Linked DNA regions of Homo sapiens: region 2 is linked to region 1. The links come from fine-mapping of genetic effects on gene expression. Tissue or cell type: whole blood. Region 1 holds a variant in brackets; the other region holds the start of a gene. All regions are shown on one strand. Distances are from middle to middle.

The links. PIP is the estimated chance that this variant, and not a neighbour inherited with it, causes the effect.
Region 2: ATF7 starts here. The variant in region 1 is fine-mapped to the expression of ATF7 in whole blood (TOPMed, PIP above 0.99).

What each region holds. Positions count from the first base shown.
Region 1 is chr12:53,338,280-53,346,381 of GRCh38, forward strand. It overlaps a transcript of SP7 not described here. Among named protein-coding and RNA genes, the nearest start is that of SP7, 6.0 kb to the left of the region's middle. RefSeq lists silencers at 6,583-6,752, 7,143-7,202. The variant C/G (reference allele first, on the strand shown) is at 3,715.
Region 2 is chr12:53,623,292-53,631,387 of GRCh38, forward strand. ATF7 (activating transcription factor 7) reads right to left here and starts at 3,091. Exons shown (of 12, transcript NM_006856.3): 1 at 2,988-3,091. ATF7-NPFF (ATF7-NPFF readthrough) reads right to left here and starts at 3,091. Exons shown (of 15, transcript NR_159377.1): 1 at 2,988-3,091. RefSeq lists an enhancer at 2,948-3,017.

The DNA.
Region 1 (8,102 bases):
CCCTTGTTGGGGGGGAGTCTGAGACTGAGGTGCCAGATGGCTTTCCGGGGCCCCGAACTCAGAAGTTGAGAAAGAGAAGCTTTAGAGAAATTCCTGTATCACCAGCAGAAAAGCCCGACCCAGTTAGATCAGGCAGGAAACTGAGGCAGAGGAGGAGAAAGTCTAGATTCTAAAGAAGAGATAGCAGGTGAGGAGGGGGTTGGGACTCAGATTAGATGAGAGAAGAAAGGAAGAAACTGAAGGGGAAAAGGAGGAAGGATGGAAAGATAAATGGACAGACAGGGCTGGGGAGAGGAGTTGGAAGGAAGGGTCACCTTCTCACTCCCCGTGTGGGCTTTAATCCCTAACCCTACCCGGGAAGGGGCAGACGTATTCAAACCCTACTATTCTCTATTCGAACCCTACTATTCTCGGAGAAATAAAAAGGAGGAGCAGAGTCCCAGGAAGATGTGAGCCAGTGCCCCGATGTGTCAACATAGGACACCCTCTGGACACAGAGCCTCTTCCCCACCAGAGATCAGCGCCAAAGATAGGCAGAGGGGCTGCCTGAATCCCCCAGCTGCTGCCCTCAGGAACCCCTGGGTTCTGACTTCTCCATGTCCTTTTTAAAAATAGTCCTGCAGCCCAGCTGAGGCTCTGGTGTTCCTGGGTCCAGCTCCCCAGTCTCCTTCCCAGTGCCCTGAGGGGCTGGGGGCAGCAATTGGAAGCCCTAACCAAGGACCTACCTCCACCCTCTCAGGCCTCCCTCAGCCCAGCCTCCCAGGGGGTGGGGCAGACCAGGGAGAGGCGCCATGTGGCAGGGGCGGGTAGAGGCTGCGGCTCTGGTCCTTCCAGTATAAACCCCCTAGGCATCTGGTTTCTATCCACCACCCCCCACCACCCTGGGGGCCCCTCAGCCTCCGCCCATGGCCACCCAGACGCTGAGCTCCAAGGGATGGATGCCCCAGACGGAAGGGGTGGGATGATGCCTTTCTGATATCCCAATGCCAGGACTGGGCTGAACCACAGGAACCATTCCCTTCCCACCCTCCCCTAGGAGAATCAGGGTGGGCTTTGTAGGTTAGAGGGGGTTGAATCTGGCACCTGCCTCAGTTCTCCAAATGATTTTGGATCTTTTTGGAAAGATCAGTGGGGTGAAAACAGAATGAAAACTGGGGAGAGTGGGGCCGGGTGCAGTGGCTCACGCCGGTAATCCCAGCGCTTTGGGAGGCCAAGGTGGGTGGATCACCTGAGGTCAGGAGTTTGAGACAGCCTGGCCAACATGGTGAAACCCCGTCTCTACTAAAAATACAAAAATCAGCTGAGCGTGGTGACGGGTGCCTGTAATCCCAGCTACTTGGGAGGCTGAGGCAGTAGAATCACTTGAACCCAGGAGGTGGAGATTGCAGTGAGCTGAGATCATGCCATTGCACTCCAGCCTGGGCAACAAGAACAAAACTCCATCTCAAAAAAAAAAAAAAAGAAAGAAAAAAAAAACTGGGGAGAGTGGGAGACCTGTACCCCCTATTCCCAAGGGATGCTACTTCCATCGTCCACACCATCACCCTCTACCACCTTTCTAGGCTGGGCTGTCTCTAAGAGCCTCATCCAAAGGGACTCCCAACTCTTCATTGTTGCTGTTATAGAAGGTTTGACTACCCTAGGGAGAATCACCAGAGAATAGTGAGCAGAGCCCCTGAAATAGAGACTGACACATGCCCTAATACATACCTGATGACAGACACATTCAGATCTGCATACTTGCACACACACAAGGTGACACATAATTCATACACATTTGTACTATGCAGGCATCCATATTGACACACACTGATATATACATATACAGATAATGCTTACCCCAAGACACCCTAACCCCCAATCATAAAAATGCACACACCAGTATATATATACATGCATACAGACTCACAGCCACCTAGAATACTCCCCACATGGACTCACAGACTCCCATCAACACACGTATCTACACATGTGGCAAATGTCACATACATATACCCAGGGCTACCATTACAACTTTACAGCCCTGGAGATCTCTGTGGTCTCCTAAAGGGCATTTGGGAACCCCTCTCCCTATAAGGATCTGGAGATAAGGGTGATATGGAGGCCACTGCCAGTCCTGCAAATTGCTGCCTCCAACTCCTACTAGTATAAGAAGTTCCAGTGTACCTTTAGGTACTTTTGATCCAATACTCCACACACACACCAGAGTTCAGAGACCCAGATGGCCCCAGCGAACTCCCTGGTCCTGGGGAACCCCAGCATCCCTACCCCCACCCAGGCCCCCGCTGCTCTGCGGCCCCGCTGACTCATCTCTCCCTCTGTGGAGCTCCCCAACCACAGGGGCCTGGAAGAGAAGCTTGGAAAGTTGCGCTCATGTCCCGGGCCCCTGGTCTGGCCACTACCCGCCCATGCACCCAGCCCAGCCCTTGTCTCCAGTGGATACTCCAGCGACAGAGAACATAGAGGGGACAGGAAAGAAGAAGGCACGCAGAGACAGGGAAACAGAAAGACACAGGAGAGACAAAGAGGAAACAACAAATGGTGGGCATACAGATGAGAGACCCTGAGGATCAGCTACTAGTCTGTTGGGTCCTCTAAGAGCAATGGGGCTGATGACCAGGAAAGCTTGCTCCTTGGGTTGAAGGAACATCCATTCATGGCCTCAGGATTTAGAGACTGCCGAGTGCCTTGACCCAGCATTTCTGACACTAGGCTCAGGGTACTTGGGGAAGAGGATCCAATTTTAGGAGGCAAAGCTGAGGACACAGGGTAGAAAGGAAGCTTTTAAGAGGCTGGCAACCTTTGTATAGGACAGCTTGGAAAAGGAGTTCCTCACCCCAACAAATATGTACACAAATTTACAGGTACAGACAGACTACAACTTCCCTCCCTCTCTGCTAGGTCTCCCCATCCCCTCTTCCAGCACCAGGGCTGCAAGGCAGGACCTCTGGGACTGACTCTGGCTCCCCTCTTCCCTGAGCCTTGGGTTCCTTCATTGACATTGAGCCCTGATATAATTCAGCAGCTTTAGGAGAGGCAGATCAGAATCAGAAACAGAAGTGCCATGGAAGGAGCAGGAAGGAATCTGGATGGCAGGGGACAAAGTGAAAAATGAAAGGAAGAGGAAGACTGGGGTCTGATTCTGAAACAAGGGGACCTGTCCTGGATGCCCGTGTCTAAAATGGGACAACATTGAATTAAGTAAGAACCTGGTCATCTCTAGAAAATGACCCTTTGTAAAAACGATACCCTAGAATCTGATCCATGAAATATACTAGTGTCTTTCATAAGAAGAAGTTGGGGTGATGGAGTTCTGATCACATCATCCCTAGGAGTGAGGCTGAGCAACTCAAGGGAATGGTCCTTCAAAATCCTAAATACAGGCCTGGTGAGGTGGCTCACACCTGTAATCCCAGCACTTTGGGAGGCCGAGGTGGGTGGATCACCTGAGGTCAGAAGTTTGAGACTAGCGTGGCCAACATGGCAAAACCCTGTCTCAGGCTGGCCGAGGTGGCTCATGCCTGTAATCCCAGCACTTTGAGAGGCTGAGGAGGGCGGATCACGAGGTCAGGAGATCGAGACCATCCTGGCTAACATGGTGAAACCCTGTCTCTACTAAAAATACAAAAAATTAGCCGGGCGTGGTGGCGGGCGCCTGTAGTCCCAGCTACTTGGTAGGCTGAGGCAGAAGAATGGCGTGACCGGGAGGTGGAG[C/G]TTGCAGTGAGCCGAGATCGCGCCACTGCACCCCAGCCTGGGCGACAGAGCGAGACTCCGTCTCAAAAAAAAAAACAAAAAACAAACAAACAAACCCTGTCTCTACTAAAAATACAAAAATTAGCTGGGTGTGGTGGCGCGTGCCTGTAATCCCAGCTACTCTGGAGGCTGAGGTAGGAGAATCACTTGAACCCAGAAGGCAGAGATTGCAGTGAGCCGAGATTGTGCCACTGCACTCCAGCCTGGAAGACAAGCGAGACTCCATTTAAAAAAAAAAAAATTCCTAAATACACACGTCTCCCCGCTTTCTCTGGCCTGCTGCATTCTTCCTCGGAGCCCAGATTTTTGAAATGTGGAATGAACTTAAAGAACATTCTTTCATTCAACAAATGTTCAGAAAGCACCTACTTTGTGCTAAGCACACTGGGCTAGACTTAGGCATGCAATAACAAGCAAGACAGACTCATCCCTTCACCTCACAAACTAACCAGCAACTAATACAAAAGAGTAGGAAGTATCTCGATAGAATAAGTACTGGAGGGCCAGGCGTGGTGGCTCACGCCTGTAATTCCAACACTGTAGGAGGCCAAGGTGGGTAGATCATAAGGTCAGGAGTTCGAGACTAGCCTGGCCAAGATGGTGAAACCCCATCTCTACTAAAAATACAAAAAAATTAGCCAGATGTGGTGGCAGATGCCTGTAATCCCAGCTACTTGGGAGGCTGAGGCAGAGAATTGCTTGAACCTGGGAGGCGGGGGTTGCAGTGAGCCAAGATTGTGCCACTGCATCCCAGCCTAGGTGACACAGAGAGACTCCGTCTCAAAAAATAAATAAATAAATAAATAATAAATAATAAAAATAAAATAAAATAAAAAATAAGTACTGGATGTTATAGGAGACAAAAGAGTAAATCTAAGCCAGTGTTGGGGGGGAATTAAGGAAGGCTTCCTGGAAGACAGCATGACTAAGTAAAGAAACTGAAGGACAAATAAGAGTTATCAAGTAAAAAAAGGAAGAGTGGTGCCAGTGCAGTGGCTCATGCCTGTAATCCCAGCACTTTGGGAGGCTGAGGTGGGTGGATCACTTGAGTCTAGGAGTTTGAGACCAGCCTGGGCAACATGACGAAACCCCATCTCTACAAAAAATACAAAAAAAAAAAAACATAGTCTGGGTGACAGAATGAGACCTTGTCTAAAAGAAAAAAAAAAGGAAGAGTGTTGTAGGAAGGGGGAAGAGTATATGCAAAGGCTCAGAGGTATGAGGGATTAACAACTTTTGAGATGCTGAAAATTGAGTGTGAGTGCAACACAGAGTGGAGGCTGATGGAGAAGTTCTAATCAGCTATGCAAGGGGCCTAGACTTGATCCAAAGGCAATATATGAGAATACTCGTATATTAGAGAAATGACTGACTTCAGAGAGGAGAATGAAATAAGGGCTTAGAGCCAGGCGGTTCTGGGTAAATCAGGCATTTACAATGGTGCAAGCTTGGGTGAGCTATTTAACCTTTGAGGCCTAAGATTCCTCTCCTGTTGAAAGGGGCAACTTAATATGGTAACCTCCCAGGGTTGTTACAAGGATTAGCAATAAAAAGTGTTGAGTTCTTAGCACAGTGTCTGGCACTTAGTAGTTGCTCCATAAATGGTGCCTAGCAGTATTGTCACAGTTGGGAGAAGGGCAAAATCGGAGGCAAGGAAACAATCTGTTGCAGCAGTCCAAGCAAGATGTGGGAAGGTGTGGCCTGCAGTAGCAGAGAGGATGAGCAGAAGTCAGTGGAGGGGGCCAGCACGGTGGCACATACCAGCACTTTGAAAGGCCAAGGCGGGCAGATCACTTGAGCCCAGGAGTTTGAGACCAGCCTGGCCAACATGGTGAAACCCCTTCTCTACTAAAAATACAAAAATTGGCTGTGCCAATTTTTGGCACATGCCTGTAATCCCAGCTACTTGGGAGGCTGAGACATGAGAATCTCTTGAGCCTGGGAGGCGGAGGTTGCAGTGAGCTGAGATTGTGCCACTGCTCTGCAGCCTGGGCGACAGAGCCAGACTCTGTCTCAAGAAAAAAAAAAATAAAAAAATAAGTCAATGAAGGGGTGATATTGAGGATGTGAGGTGGAGAGGATTTGGTGTCCAATCAGATGTGAGGGGTGAGTAGTCACACATGACTTCCCTTGATCTGTGTGTTGATGTGTGCACTTGCACACAGGATATGCAGGCATTTTAGAGGTATCTATTCAGTTCTGAGAATGGCTCTTGACAGTTGCTGGATCCGGCCAACAGTGAAGGGCCAGGGCAGTATCTGAGGACCTGGCCCTCAGTCTCCCAGAAGAACCCCCGCCTCTGCCCTCTGCCCCAATCCCTCCTGAACTATTTCCTTTCCCCCTTTTCACCCATTTCTCCCTCTCCCCACCTTCCATCACCTCCCCTACATAGGAACCCGCTGTAAGTTATAAGCCTACCTAGGCCCACTTTCCACCGCCTCAGTTAATGAAGGTCCTTGGGACTCAGCTACCAACATTAACACCTCCTCCCCACATAGCCTCAATGGGACGCCCCCCTCTGGATTTCAAAGCGCTGTTCAATGCCCCCATCCACCCCCACCTCGCGTGGACGTGTGAGGCAAGAAGGACGGTTGAAGCTGAGGCAGGATTTGGGGGGTCTTAGCCCCCAGCCACAGCTGTGGGGGAGATAGGCACCCTCAGAAGGACAGGACAGGTCGTGAGCTCCGGGGCTGCTGGGAGGTCTCTTGCGGCCTAGGCCAGGCTCAGGGCCGCCGGGGATCTCGCCTCCATCCCGTGCCTCAGTGTCCCGGCGCGGCCGAGGGGCGGGCGGCAGGGGGCGGGGCGCGGGCGGGGCCGGCCGGGCCAGGCGCCCGGGCAGGAGGCAGCTGCATATCTGCGGTCCCGACCACAATTGCTGGGAGTCGCGTCCCGGAGACTGGCGGCGCTGACTCTGCCCGCTGCGGCCGCCGCGCCGATTAGAGCCCGAGAGGGAGCGCCAGCCCGGGGGAGGGGGCGGCGGCGGGGGAACTCCGGATGCCCCTTCGCCTCCGCCCAGCCAGCGCCCCCCGCTGCCCGGCCCAGTCCTTTCTCAGCCGCCCGAACCCAGGACCGGAGTCCTGCCTCTTCCGCCGTAGCTTTCTCGAGGCTGCATCCAAGCTTCTTCCTCCGGATCTTGCAGTGCCCGAGGTCCCGACGGTGCCAACATCCCGTTGGCCCCCAGCCTGCCAGTCTCTCATGCCCTTTCTCTTCCCCATCACCCCACACAGAGAGGAGTAGGGATCTCAGAGCTCCCCCATTCTCTTATCCTCCGCTCCCCAATGCACTCTCTAAGCAAAAGCCGTTCCAAGCGAAGAAGAGAATCAGAGACTCAGAGGACGGGCTTTCCAGGGCCGGAGCACCCCCTGCTGGCTGGCCCGAAGCCCCTCCCCCTCCCCCTCCAGCTGTGACCTCCAGCTGTGGTGGCTGGGAAGAGCTGGCCCCTTTGATCTAGGAGCGTGGCAACCCCCTCCAGGCGCCCCATTAACCTCCATTATCCCAATTAGGCAGCCCTCCCAGTCCTGGATCCAAGCTTCAAAGCCCCCTCAGTTGGGAGAAAAGGGAGCTGAATCGTATGCCCCCTACCTCCCCACCAAGCCACACCACTTTCAGACAAGACCCAGGTGCTCTGGTCTCCAGCTTGTGTACATGATAGCAGGGCCAGAAGAGGGACCCTCAGGGGCCACCCTCGTCCCAATACTGAAACTTCATTAAAAAGAGAAGCAGATAGGCAAGGGGACCCTCTTTTGCTGGCCCATTTTCCTGCATTCAGTGATTTCAGTGGCAGCATCCAGGTTCCTGGCTGACCTGAGCTTCCCATCAACTTATCCAGCTTTATCCTGTGGAAAGGGGAGCCAAGAACCAACCCACTCCTCCCTTAATCCTATCTCAACACTCCCTTCCTCCCTCCCTCCTGGAACAATTTCCGCTGGGGGAGCCAGAGCAGGGCCCAGCACAGTGGCCGCTTCCTGGAACATTTTCCTGTATCCGAAACCGCGGCTCCCTCCCTAGGGACCGGCTGATCAAGGCCAGATGGGAGAAGGGATGGGGGAGGAGGAGAGGGAGCCAGGCTCTCACCATCACCCCCTCCCAACACATAGGCACACCACAGGAGCCCCTGCCCTGACACACAGAGGCTGACACAGGCACACACCACATGTCATAGTCACACCATGGGCATTCATGGGGACACATGAACCACAGAGGCCAGGTCTTAGAAGAAGTTAACACACCCGTAGATGATCACCCTCTCTCTCTACCTGGCCCTCTAAAGGACCCTAAGGCCTTTCTTGCCAGATAAGGAGACCTTAGGAATCCAAGAACATTGGCACAGGATAGCAGAAGGACCTCAA
Region 2 (8,096 bases), 290 kb after region 1:
CCTAAAAAAACCTTAGGGGAAGGCAACATGTCAAAATGAGTAAATGTCAGAGAAGCTTAAAAATTATTTTCTTTGACATATTTTTAAAGAGACAGAAGACTTTTTCATGAACTCCAAAATCGTAGGACCATTTTCTGAGAAACCAACAACAAAAGAAATGAATGCTTTTTCCTTTTAAATGAATGCTGCATTTGTTTTTCTCAAAGAAACACCTGTACCTTAACTTTAGTACTTTTATTAAGGGATAAGGGACAATTATATACCAGTATGCTAACTAGTCTCAAGAAAAGAGCTAGCTTTATTAGACATTTACGTGGAGTTCTATCTGTTCCACCTAAAACTTCCTTGCAAGGAGAAGGCTCCTCCTTATCAGACGTGGATAGGAGGCTGCTGTAACACTAACTCCCTCCCACTGTAGCCTAGGAAAAACTCGGTCTTGACATGCACAAAACAATAACTTCTGAGAACTTCAGAGCAGCTGTGTTCAGACAGAGCCAGTGACTTTACTCCAGGCAAAGAAGTAGTTTAAGAGTTGGTTGAAAAAACAATTTTCATTTTGGGTTGGAAATGAGGAAAGGAAAGAGAACAAGATACAGTAAGTAGAGCTATTAACATTTTAAAACCGTGGTAAACAAACGTGTTTAAAAATTACAACACTGAAACTACCACAGGGTGTAAACTTTGATCCACAAGTTGAAAGATGAGCAGTGTTATCACTCTAGCTTTCTGCTAGATGGTAGCACTAGTGAGAAAAAAAAAATCTTGGGTTTAATAGTGCCCTAGTCAAAGCAATCACCAATTCTAGGGCAGAAGACCAAAACAAGGGACTCTGCTCTCTCACTGGGTAATTTTCTGTACTGCTGCCAGGCAAACTGGAAATGTTCTGAATGTCCAATAGCAATGCACTTACTGTGAAATACTAGAACCCAGCTCAGTAGTTAATGCTAACGGGTCAGCAATGAATTGGTCTCAATGTGCTATAGGGGCAACTTCTTGGCCAGGGAGAAAGGCTTCAGCTGATTGCAGAAAACCAAAGGTTAATACAACTACGTACTCTGGTTTCTCTTCATGTAATAGCTTTACTGATATTTCAGACATTATTTCCCTTCTCAAAAGTAAAAGGAGAAGAGAAGGAATGTAAAAGCAAAATCTACGCAAGAGCAAAGAAGTTATTAATTGGCTATATTAGTCCAATTCGTTATTAAATGATACACAACTATCAAACAAAGGGCAAAGCCCTGTCCCTTTTCTGTACAGAATTAAGAACTGGTAAGACTACTTAGCAGAGCTTGCAAACTTTTCTTTAGCTTCTTTTCTTACAGACATGTTACATTTCGCAAGAGCCTCCACTTACCTTACAACTTCCATGTGTAAGTACAAATTGTGTTTGATTTCCCCAGCCCTTGGCCTAAGATATTATGACATAGCTTTAGTTTCTGAGTCTGGACACAAAGGAAAAAACTGAACATTTTTCACTTTCCTGAAATAACATGTCTATTTTATTTACACTATTTAAAAACACATTATGTAAGTTAACTAAAACAAACTGCAACCACCCATTCGACAACTCTTCGAGAATGACTGGGGAAGCCACATTTAACAAAACAAACTTCATTTTAGTATATTTCTGCTTAGAATGCCCATAAAGACTGATATCGCTACAAGAATTACACTACTGCAAAATTTTTAAACACAGGACTCATGTGAGCTTGCTGAGAAAACTCTGCACACCCCCTACACACCTGTACTTAATATGACATGACCCTCAGAGATACTAAAACACCCTCTGTTAAGCAGAAAACAAACTTTTAAAGTTAGGAAAGTAGCAACGCGGGAATCTGGGTAGGAGGTGCCCTGGGTTGTAAACACCCCAGTCAGAGAACATAACAAGCAATTCAGAGCAACATATTAAGTCCCTATGGGGCTCCAACTTGGACTGCTTAAGTCCCAAGACCACATCCTGGTGTCTGGGAAGAGTTTGGGTAATAGAAGAGAGGGAGAAGGAAAATCAGAGAAGCGATGAAAGCGTTCTATTTTTCTCCTTCTCAACCCCCATCCCAGCATCTTGGAGGCTGGTCACCAGTCTGGGTGCCATATCCACCAGAAGCCCTAAATCAATATCCCAACCACCTGATACCTAGGCTAAAGACATGTGTATATCAGCCATCTCCTTCCCAAACACCTCTTATCGCTCTCAAGGCTCATATCCTTCCAGAAGCCATGCCTTATGGCGACTCAGCTCACCCATACTGTCCTCTTAAATTAATTCACTTAATTTTCTCCAAATCCATACTTTCTCTCTGATATCATGTCCCTGATGTTCTTTTAATTAATTCAATCAAAATGCCATGACCCTCATTTCCAATAATCCACCCCATCTATCTTTTCTGCCAAACCCAACGGGGTGTTGTGTCACCAGATCAAGATCTTTGTTCTCATCTACTCATTCCTACCTCCTTCCTATTACCCTTTTCCAATTCCAAGCTCCTAATCCCACTCTTTGGGAAGCCCTGGGTTTCTAACTTAGTTTAGTATCCCTCCTCTTTCTCCCATTCCACCCCATCCCATGATCCTTCCATTAGGCTCCACTAGACTACCCTTCCCTCAGGATTCAATTCCCCTCTCCTTGCCACGCCCTGTGCCCCCCGGGGCTACTTACACCAAGTTCTCCCCACACTTCAAGCCTCTGGCCCCGCCTTCCCCCCAAAGGAAGGAGGCGGGAGTAGGGAGAGAAGGGCGGCGCTCGGCAACGTAAAAGCGATCTCCCATTAGCGCTCATCGCCGCCAATCGAGGCTTCCTTCTCTCCCATTGGTCGGCTTTGGCCTATGCCCCACCCTCTTCCTCAGACAGGGCCCGGCCACCGCCTCAGCGCCCCCGTCCAACACAGACTGGGAGGGGAGACCCCAGCCTGGAACGCTGGGACTGGCCAGAGTTGAAAGGGAGACTCCCGTCAGATCATGGACTAGCTAATGTTAAAAGGACTTACCGGCTGGTAGCTCCGTTGCCTCCCGCCTGCCCGCGCTCGGTCCTACAATCTGTCTCCAGCTCCTCCTTTCCCCCCTTGGCGGAACGGATACTTTCCTCCCGTCCGGCCAGGCGCGCTCAACTCTCGCGAGAAGTCATGGGTCCGCGGGGGAAGGGCGAGATCCGTGGGGGCTGAGTTGGAAAGCGGCCGAGAGGCGGGGGCTCCGGGAAAAGAAGGGGCCGGGCTTACTGTGGGCAGGGCTGGGGAGGGAGACTGAGCGAGTACTGTCCACACAGGTCACACGTGTTCGGCTGCAGAATCTAGCGGGAGAAAGAAAGGAAAAAGGAGAGAGGATCTTTACAGGTGCCTGTAGTGGTGGTTACTACTATCTTTCAGAGTCATCGCTTCCTTAACGGCAAAGTAATTTAAAATACCCTTAGCGCTAGAAATGAAGTCCATGTACGGACAAAGCAATCCACCCGCACAGCAATTCTAACACTACCATTTTACTAGCCCTATTGCCTTGGGTGAAAACCTTCTCTGAGTCTCTGTACAATGGGACTAACAATCTCATTTTATTCAAATAGTTGTAATGATCAAATGAGATACATGAAACTGCTTGGGGATTTTTTAAAATCACTATATTATTCAGCAAATATTTTCACAAAACGTAGGGCATACTACATGCAAAGCATTGTTCTGCAGTCGAATGCTCTATCCCTGAGCTATACCCCCCGTGCAAAGCATTGTTCTAAGCATGGGGTTAAGGAGTTACCAACCCAGGTAGAATTTATATTTGAGTGAGGAAGGGGAGACAGTTAAAAAGCCAATAAACACAAATATTTCAAATAGTGAAAAGCGCTTCAGGATAGTGAGACAGAAGGTGACTAGGAGTGGGGAAGAAGCTTTACTCCTAGTGTTTGAGAGAAGACCTCTTTGAGGAAGTAACACACCAGGAGTTGAATTATGACCTGGGAAGATTTCGGGGGAAATATCAAATGCAAAGTCTATAGTCTTACATTTATATGTCTTGTTCAAGACAAACCAGGAAAAGAAAAAAGAAAAACAAAAAACAGGCTGGGTGCAGTGGCTCACGTCTGTAATCCCAACACTGCTAGGCCGAGGCAAGAGGATCGCCTGAGCCCAGGAATTTGAGACCAGCCTGGGCAACATGGCGAAAACTCAGCTCTACGAAAAAATATAAAATTAGCCGGGCATGGTGGCCTGCACCTGTAGTAGCTATTCGGGGGGCTAAGTGGGAAGATCGCTTGAGCCCAGGAGGTTGAGGTGGCAGTGAGCCCACATCAGGCCACTGCACTCCAGCCTGGACAACAGAGTGAAACCCTGTCTCGATAAATAAATAAAATAAATAATTTTCTTAAAATTTAACGAATTGTAGTTGACTTAAAATATTATCTATGGAATCTCTGTTCTCTCCTTTTGCAGCTTTATGTTACTCAGCTTTCTGAACTTTCTGTCTAGCATCTCATCTATCCTCACAGCACCCTCTGAGAGGTAGGAAGAATCTGGGTGATTTCTCCCTAGATACCTAAAATGAAACAGATGTAAAATCTTTCTTTCTTATGTAGTGAATTGAGAAAAGTTGAGAGGAGTCTTGGCTTCCAAACTATTCTCCCCTAAAACAATTCCTACTTAAAAGAATACAGTGATGGAAACATACCTTAAATATATAAGAAAAATTTGTATGTTGGCCGGGCGCAGTGGCTCACGCCTGTAAATCCCAGCTACTCAGGAGGCCGAGGCAAGAGAATCACTTGAACCTGGAAAGCGGAGGTTGCAGTGAGCCAAGATCCCGCCATTGCACTCCAGCCTGGGCAACAACAGCGAAACTCCGTGTCAAAATAAATAAATAAATAAATAAATAAATAAATAAATAAAAATAAAATCAGAGGGAAAAGGATTCTACAAATCGTGGTGGAACAATTGGCTATCGCTGTATACATGCAATAGCTAATATTTATAGATTTTACTATGTTCCAGGTACTATTCTAAATTGATGTTTTTTGTTTGTTTGTTTGTTTTTGTTTTTTGAGACGGAGTCTTGATCTGTCACCAGGCTGGAGTGCAGTGGCACGATCTCAGCTCACTGCAACCTCCACCTCCTGGGTTCAAGCGATTCCCCTGCCTCAGCCTCCCGAGTAGCTGGGACTACAGGCGCACGCCACCACACCCAGCAAATTTTTGTATTTTTAGTAGAGACGGGGTTTCACCATGTTGGCCAGGATGGTCTCAATCTCTTGACCTTGTGATCTGCCCGGCTTGGCCTCCCAAAGAGCTGGGATTACAGGCATGAGCCACTGCGCCCGGCCTTTTTTTTTTTTTTTTTTTGGCAGGGTCTCCCTTTGTTGCCCAGGTTGGAGTGCAGTGGCATGATCACTGCTGACTGCATCCTCGACCTCCCAGACTCAAGCAATCCTCCCAACTCAGCACCCCAAGTAGCCAGGACTACAGGTACATGCTACCATGTCCAGATGATTTTTTAAAATTTTCCAGGCCGGGTGCGGTGGCTCACACCTGTAATCCCAGCACTTTGGGAGGCTGAGGCAGGTGGACCACGAGGTCAGGAGTTCAAGACCAGCTTGGCCAACATGGCAATCCTGTCTCTACTAAAAATACAAAAATTCGCTGGGTATGGTGGTGGGCATCTGTAATCCCAGCTACTTGGGAGGCTGAGGCAGGAGAATTGCTTGAACCCGGGAGGCGGAGGTTGCAGTGAGCTGAGATCATGCCATTGCACTCCAGCCTGGGTGACAGAGTGAGACTGTGACTCAAAAAAAAAAAAATGTCTGTAGACACTAGGTCAGGCTGGTCTTAAACTCCTGGACTCCAGTGATCCTCCCACCTTGGCCCCTCAAAGTGTTGGGATTACAGGCATGTAAAGAGGCCCGGCCTCTTTATTGTTGAGTTATAAGAATTCTTTATATATTCTAGATACTAGATGCTTATCAGATATATGATTTGCAGATATTTTATCTCATTCTGCAGGTTAGTTGTCTTTTCACTTTCTGATAGTGTCCTTTGAAGCTCAAAAGTTTTTTTTTTTTTTTTGAGTTGCCCAGGCTGGAGTGCGGTAACGCAATCTCGGCTCACTGCAAGCTCCACCTTCCGGGTTCATGCCATTCTCCTGCCTCAGCCTCCGGAGTAGCTGGGACTACAGGCACACGCCACCACGCCCAGCTAATTTTTTTGTATTTTTAGTAGAGACGGGGTTTCACCGTGTTAGCTAGGATGGTCTCGATCTCCTGACCTCATGATCCGCCCACCACGGCCTCCCAAAGTGCTGGGATTACAGGCATGAGCCACCGCGCCCGGCCTGAAGCTCAAAAGTTTTATATTTTGATAAAGTCCAATTTATCTTGTTTGTGCTGTTGGTGTCATATCTATATCTAATAAACCATTGCCTAATACAGTATCATAAAGATTTACACGTGTGCTTTCTTCTAAGAATTTTGTTGTTTTTAGCTCCTACATTTAGGTCTTTGATTCATTATGAGATAATTTTGTATATGGTATGAGGTAGAGGTCCAATTTCGTTCTTTTCCATGCACAATTGTCCCAGCACCATTTGTTGGAAAAGATATTATTTCCCTCATTCAATCCTCTTGGCACCCTTGCCAAAACTCATTGGACCTTAAATATATTGGTTTACTTCTGGACTTTCAATGTTATTTCGTTCTTCTATATGTCTGTCCTTATGCCAGTATCAAAAGGCTTGATAATTTTAGCTTTGTAGTAAGTTTTGAAATTAGGAAGTATGAATCCTCCAATTTCGTTCTCTTTTTTCGAGATTGCTTTGGATATACTGGGTCCCTTACATTGCCACATGAATTTTAGGGTCAGCTTGTCAATTTCCACAAAAAAGCCATCTAGGATTTTAATAGGAATTCCCTTGAATCTGTAGATCAAGGAGTATTGCCATCTTAACAATATCGTATTCCAATCCACGGACATCGAATGTCTTAACATTTATTTAAAGCTTCTTAATGTCTTTCAACTGTATTTTTTGTAGGTTTACTTTGTTTTTTATTTTGTATTTTTTTGATTTTTAAATTTTTTTAGAGACGGGATTTCACCATGTTGCCCAGGCTGGTCTCAAACTCCTGGGCAACATGGTGAAACCCCATCTCTAATGGGGTTAGATCCACCCACCTTGGCCTCCCAAAGTGCTGGGATTACAGGTGTGAGCCACCTCACCTGGACTTATTTTGTTTTTTAAGTTAGAGACAGGGTCCCGCTTTGTTGCCTAGGCTGGTGTCAAACTCTTGGTCTCAAGCAGTTCTCCCACCTTGGCCTCCCAACGTGATAGGGTTACAGGCATAAGCCACTGTGCCAAGCTGTGTTTTGTGGTTTTCATTGTACAAATCTTGTGTTTCTCTTGTTAAACTTACTCATATTTTTTATTTTCTTTTTTGAGACGGGTCTCACTTTGTCACTTAGGCTAGAGTGGTGCAATCATAGCTCACTGTAACCTCCAACTTCTGGGCTCAAATGATCCTCCCACCTCAGCATCCTGAGTAGCTAGGACTACAGGTGCATGCCACCATGCCTGGCTAATTTTTTTTTTTTTTTTTTTGCTCTCCTGCCTTGGCCTCTCAAGGTGCTAGGATTACAGATATAAGCCACCATGCCTGGCCTCTTTCTTTTTTCAGTTAGAGATGGGGTCTTGCTATGTTGACCAGGCTGGTCTGAAACTCCTGTCCTCAAGGGATCCTCCTACCTCAGCCTCCCAAAGTGCTGGGTTTACACATATGAGCCATTACACCTGGCAAGTCTTTCATTATTAAGTGTGTTGTTAGCTGTTGTTTTTTTGGTAGCTGTACTTTAATCAAAGTGAGGAAGTTACCTTCTATTCCTAGATTGTTGAGTGTTTTTATCATGAAGGAGTGTTTGATTTTATCAAATGTTTTGTCTATTTAGATGATCATGTGGTTTTTGTCTCCTGTTAATATGGTGTATAACATTGATTAATTTTCATTTGTTAAACCAACCTTGCATTTCTGGGATAAATCTCAGTTGGTCATAGGGCATAATCTTTTTACATGTTGCTGGATTTAAGTTTTCTAGTACTTTGTTGAAGATTTTTGTGTCTATATTTATAAGAGATGTTAG